Regions from separate parts of the Homo sapiens genome. Here region 2 is linked to region 1. The links come from fine-mapping of genetic effects on gene expression. Tissue or cell type: whole blood. Region 1 holds a variant in brackets; the other region holds the start of a gene. All regions are shown on one strand. Distances are between the middles of the regions.

Region 1 (2,682 bases):
AGTGTTTCGCCATGTTGCCCAGGCTGTTCTCAAACTCCTGAGCTCAAACAATCTGCCCACCTTAGCCTCCCAAAGTGCTTGGATTATAGGTGTGAGCCACTGCACTGAGCCTGAAAATAAACTTGTTTTAAATGTTGTTTTTAGGACTACGTTGAGTCAGAATAAGGAAGTCATTTGATCAACTGCTAATTGTGCAAGAAATGCCTGACCTAATTTTATCAGATTTAATGTTTGAAAAAAAACCCCAAAAGCAGCCCTTCTGTAAGAACTGCTGAAATGGAAGTTTCTGAACCTAGGTCAGTGGCCTAAATGCTGTATGTGTTTTCTGTGCAAGCAATGCTCTGCAGCCATTTCTGCTTTTAAAGCCAGGACTTCACATAGGCTGAATGTGATTTCTACTCTTTTACTTGTTTATTTGAGCTGCTGATTCACAATGGGGTGGGGTGGGTACCAGTCAGAGCAGCAGCAGTTGCATGGTTGAATGAAAAGAATGTGTATGTGTGAGAGTGTGTCTGTGTGTGTTGGGGGAAGACAGTGAAGTCTTAACTGGCTTTACTCTGAAACTTCCTGGAGAAGAGAGAGTTAGAAAGGACTGGCCGGGCATGGTGGCTCACGCCTGTAATCCCAGCACTTTGGGAGGCCCAGGTGGGTGGATCATTTGAAGTCAGGAGTCCAAGACCAGCCTGGCCAACATGGTGAAACCCTGCCTCTACTAAAAATACAAAAAAATTAGTCTCGGGTACTCAGGAGGCTGAGGCAGGAGAATTGCTTGAACCCGGGAGACAGGTTGGAGTGAGCTGAAATTGCACCACTGCATTCCAGCCTGGGCAATAGAGCGAGACTCCCTGTCAAAAAAAAAAAAAGAAAGAAATGACTTCTAGTTGAGAGAGGAGGCATACAGCTTAAAGTCTGAGGAGAAATGTTCTCCAGCCAGGATCAGGCATACTGGGAGTTCAGAAGTTCCCTTTACTGAAGCTGAGTAATTTCAGGGGAAACCAAAAAAAGTTCCCTTCACTCGTAGTCCAAGGCATAAACTGAGATGGTGGGGGTGGCATGG[G/C]GCAAGGAGGGGTCAATCACCAGGCATCCTGGAGAGAAGTTGGAGTTTATTGGAAAGTTCTGGGTTCCTATCCTGTAGCCTAACCAGAGAGTGTGGCCTAGGCCACATTGACCCTGTACAGGAAAGGGGAGAGTTGAAGTGGGATGTCTCTTCTCACAGGTCCAGCTGGTAGAACACTGAGTAGGACCCTAGGTCCCTAGACTTTCCACTTTGGTGTCTCTGGAGGTGGGTTGTGGAACATATATTTTCACAAGTACCTGGGTGACTCCTGGGCACTGTATATTCATCTCCTAGAATAGGACCTGGTACCTCCTAGACACATGGCTTTCTAGCTTTGGTTCCAGCTGCCCCGAGACTGCAGGCAGTCCAGAAGCATGGGTTCCAGCTAACTATTCTTTAGGAACTGTCCCTTCCCTTGGCTCCTTGCTCCAACCTTGTTCCTCCCCAGCTATTTCTCTCTGCCATCTCATCTGGAAGGATTGTGAATCTATAGGCCTCAGGCCCAGGTCCCCTAATCTTTTTCTTGCCACTTTCCCCACGTGACCTCATCCTCTCCAGTGGCTACTGCTCCCGTGGCTAGACCATTGCCTTTCAACATTCTCTTCTTCTGCGCCTCTTGTAACTGCCTGCCCCAGATACCTCTGTCTGGATGTCTAATGCAGTATAGCTGAATCTGAACACATCCACCTACCCCCAAAACCTGCTCCTCCTGTTGCTGACTTAGTCAAGAATGCCACCTTCCCATCTCAGGATCTCACACACTATACTCCCTGCCTGCTCACCCGCCATCAGCTTATTCTTTAACCAACTGCTTCTTGACTTCTTTTCAGTCTCAATTTTTTTTTTTTCTCTGAGAGGGAGTCTCGCTCTGTCACCCAGGCTAGAGTGCAGTGGTGCAATCTCGGCTCACTGCAAGCTCCGCCCCCCAGGTTCACGCCATTCTCCTGCCTCAGCCTCCCGAGTAGCTGGGACTACAGGTGCTCGCCACCACGCCCAGCTAATTTTTTGTATTTTTAGTGGAGATAGGGTTTCACCGTGTTAGCCAGGATGGTCTCGATCTCCTGACCTTGTCATCCGCCCACCTTGGCCTCCCAAAGTGCTGGGATTACAGGTGTGAGCCACCGCGCCCAGCCACTTTTTCTTTTTGAGATGGAGTCTTGCTCTGTTGCCCAGGCTGGAGTGCAGTGATACCATCTCGGCTCACTGCAACCTCCACCTCCTGGGTTCAAGTGATTCTCCTGCTTCAGACTCTTGAGTAGCTGGGATTACAGGTGCCCGCCACCACGCCCAGCTAATTATCATATTTTTAATAGAGACGTGGTTTCGCCGTGTTGGGCAGGCTCATCTCAAACTCCTGACCTCAAGCCATCAAGCCATCTGCCCACCTTGGCCTCCCAAAGTACTGGGATCACAGGTGTGAGCCACCGCACCCAGCCTCACTGTCACTTTTTCCAGGAGGCATGCATGAGCCTCCCTACTGGGCCTGGTCCTCTTCTTTATTCTTTTTTTTTTTTTTTTTTTTTGAGACGGAGTCTCGCTCTGTCGCCCAGGTCGGACTGCGGACTGCAGTGGCGCAATCTCGGCTCACTGCAAGCTCCGCTTCCCGGGTTCACGCCATTCTCCTG
Region 2 (2,682 bases), 910 kb before region 1:
CCCAGCCGTATGCTGCTAAAACAAACCTGAGCACCAGTGATTCACACTGTTCCTGAAAGCAAGTTACTTGGTGGAACCTATCCCTCTTTAACAAATGAACAGTCCTGTCTCTTTCCAGGACCAGAGTCCTGCAGCAATTAAGCATGCAACACTTGGGAAGCTATCTGACGGAGACTACCAGTTGCTCCAAAAAATTTTAAACTCCTTAGACATTATAGGCCCTGATAGCACTCTCTTTTTCATTTACTCTTTTCATTTAATGCTTTCACAAATATTCCTAGGACACTCACAGGTGAAGTTTGGCACTGAGCAGGTAAGGCTGAAAGAGTCTTGCTCCTGTTACTCTCCATTGCCAAATTCTCTATTGCGGCTAACTTCTGCACACCACAGCTGCCCAATAAAATCTGTCAGGCACGCAAGCCCACCTCAAATTGCTGCTCCTTTGTGAAGCTTTACCTCTGTTCGCCACCGGTAACTCTTACCTGGCCTTTGTGTGGCCTCCCTTTCAATGTAGAATTCTCGTGTTAGTCTTATGTGCCAGCCTCCTACCCCTCTATCCTGCTAACTTGACTCAACTTGTAGGACAGCGCAGGTGCCATTTACAGGGGGACTTCCTTGACCTCCTGAGCCCTATTCTATACAACCAGAGCTTAGGAAAAAAAAACAGTCCAGCACTCAGAGGAATGGATGTTAACAGCCTGAGCAGCTCCCACCCCCTCCCACACAAGAACAGCTCCAAACATCATTCCTCCTTGGACTTTCCTCCTCCCTGGGCCTACCTCAAATGTACACATGTGAAACATTCACTAAACCCGAAGATGTCTGCACACGACAGCTCTATTCATACTCCTCACCCAACAAATTCCACTCTCCTCAAGAAAGCCTAGGGGTTTGTGGGAGGTGGGTCTGGCGGCAGAAGGAAAGCGAGGTCACGGAGACCACATCCCTGAATGATGCCTGGCTCGACTCAAACGCAACACGCGTGAATGCTAGGGCAGGCTGCTCCTGCGCGGCCCTCCTCCACGGAATGCCAGGGAGGGAGCGCAAAGCCACCAGCGCGGCGGAGCTGGTGCGCCTCCGGCCCGCCTCTCCGGTAACGGGTCGCGCCGCACTGAGTCCTTGCAGCAAACCTGCCGAATCCCGCCCGTGGACCTCTAAACACCGGGCGGGGCCGGGTGTGGCGGCGCGCTCGGACGTTCGTCATTCCTCCGCGCCCTCCGCCTGCCAGCTGATTGGCCCCTGGGCCAGGGGCGGGGCACTCGCGGCGGAGGCAAGCGGCGGCGCGCGGACGGTTGGTCCAGTTCTCCGGCCTGGCGGCAGGCAAGTCTAGCTCGGCGCTGTCGGATACTTGGGGTGAGCGGAAAGCATGGCGGGGACCTCCGCGCCAGGCAGCAAGAGGCGGAGCGAGCCCCCGGCGCCTCGCCCCGGCCCGCCGCCGGGCACCGGGCACCCCCCGAGCAAGCGGGCCCGGGGCTTCTCCGCAGCCGCTGCCCCGGACCCTGACGACCCGTTCGGCGCGCATGGGGACTTCACTGCCGACGACCTGGAGGAGCTTGACACCCTCGCGTCACAGGCCCTGAGCCAATGTCCGGCCGCGGCTCGGGACGTGTCCAGTGAGTGCTCCTCGCGGCCTTTTGCTCGGAGGGAGTTGTCAACCGCGCCAGATCCCCTTGATGGCTGTGGCTTCGGAACCTCGCGGCCAGCACTGCCTTTTCGCCTTTTTAAAATATGGGAACACCCTGATTTAAGCAGCGGTTGTCTTCCAGAAGGTCCTTTGATTTTAGGGGGAAATGCATTAGCCAGGTCAAACAGCCGATTTGAAACACAGAAGGCTAAGTTGACATTTTACGTTATTTTCTAAAGTTTAGGCCACTTGGTTCTTGGTTCTAAGCAGAGATCCTTGGAACACACCTACCACCACCATCAGAACCATCACTACCCATGCATGGGGACCCATTCTTGTGACAAGTTTGAGCGGCTTTAGATCTTATGAAGCCCACTGTCTCCCTTGGGCAGTGTGAGCATGGGAGGAGCCAGACACAGGCAAGAGATGAAATAAATTTATTCTTTTATACAACCAGTAAACTGTGCTAGGTGCCCAAACGTGAGGAACTGCAGCTGACCTTACAATGAACAAAATACAAAAACTGTCCTTCATGGAGCTTACATTCTAGTTGAGGAGTGAGTGAAGTCTTGAGGACTCCCAGAAAGAGAAATGTTTTGAGTGCACCTTGCATCTGTACTTGGGTGTCTCAAGGCACCTTAAACTCAACACGATCATTTCCTGGAAACCCAGTCCTCCTCCAGCACTTCTAGCATGGTGCCGGCAAAGCAGACATTCAGAGAATGATGACCAGATGTTCCACAAGGAAGTAACTAGCACGACTCTCCATCCAGTGGCACAAAGCGACTCTTCCCCTTTCCTTGACTCTACATCTAATTTATTTGGAAAGCATGTCAAGCTTACCTTCTTAATCCTTCTCTGGAGTCTATCCTATTCACATTGCTTCTACCAGCTGCCTGATCTGTGTTACCATGAGTCCTCTCTTGAACAATGGTCTGCTAAATTGGTTTCCCATTTCCAGTCTTGACTCCCTACAAGTGAGGCTTCACATCACATTCTGAGTGATCTTTTCAAAACTCAAATCTGGCTGTGTCTTACACAGATATACGTGAACACCC

The links. PIP is the estimated chance that this variant, and not a neighbour inherited with it, causes the effect.
Region 2: ATRIP starts here. The variant in region 1 is fine-mapped to the expression of ATRIP in whole blood (INTERVAL, PIP above 0.99).

What each region holds. Positions count from the first base shown.
Region 1 is chr3:49,351,468-49,354,149 of GRCh38, forward strand. No RefSeq gene overlaps it. Among named protein-coding and RNA genes, the nearest start is that of GPX1, 5.5 kb to the right of the region's middle. RefSeq lists an enhancer at 993-1,072. The variant G/C (reference allele first, on the strand shown) is at 1,058.
Region 2 is chr3:48,445,480-48,448,161 of GRCh38, forward strand. ATRIP (ATR interacting protein) reads left to right here and starts at 1,258. Exons shown (of 13, transcript NM_130384.3): 1 at 1,258-1,613. The coding sequence starts at 1,367. ATRIP-TREX1 (ATRIP-TREX1 readthrough) reads left to right here and starts at 1,300. Exons shown (of 15, transcript NR_153405.1): 1 at 1,300-1,613. It also overlaps a transcript of CCDC51 not described here. RefSeq lists a silencer at 1,203-1,562.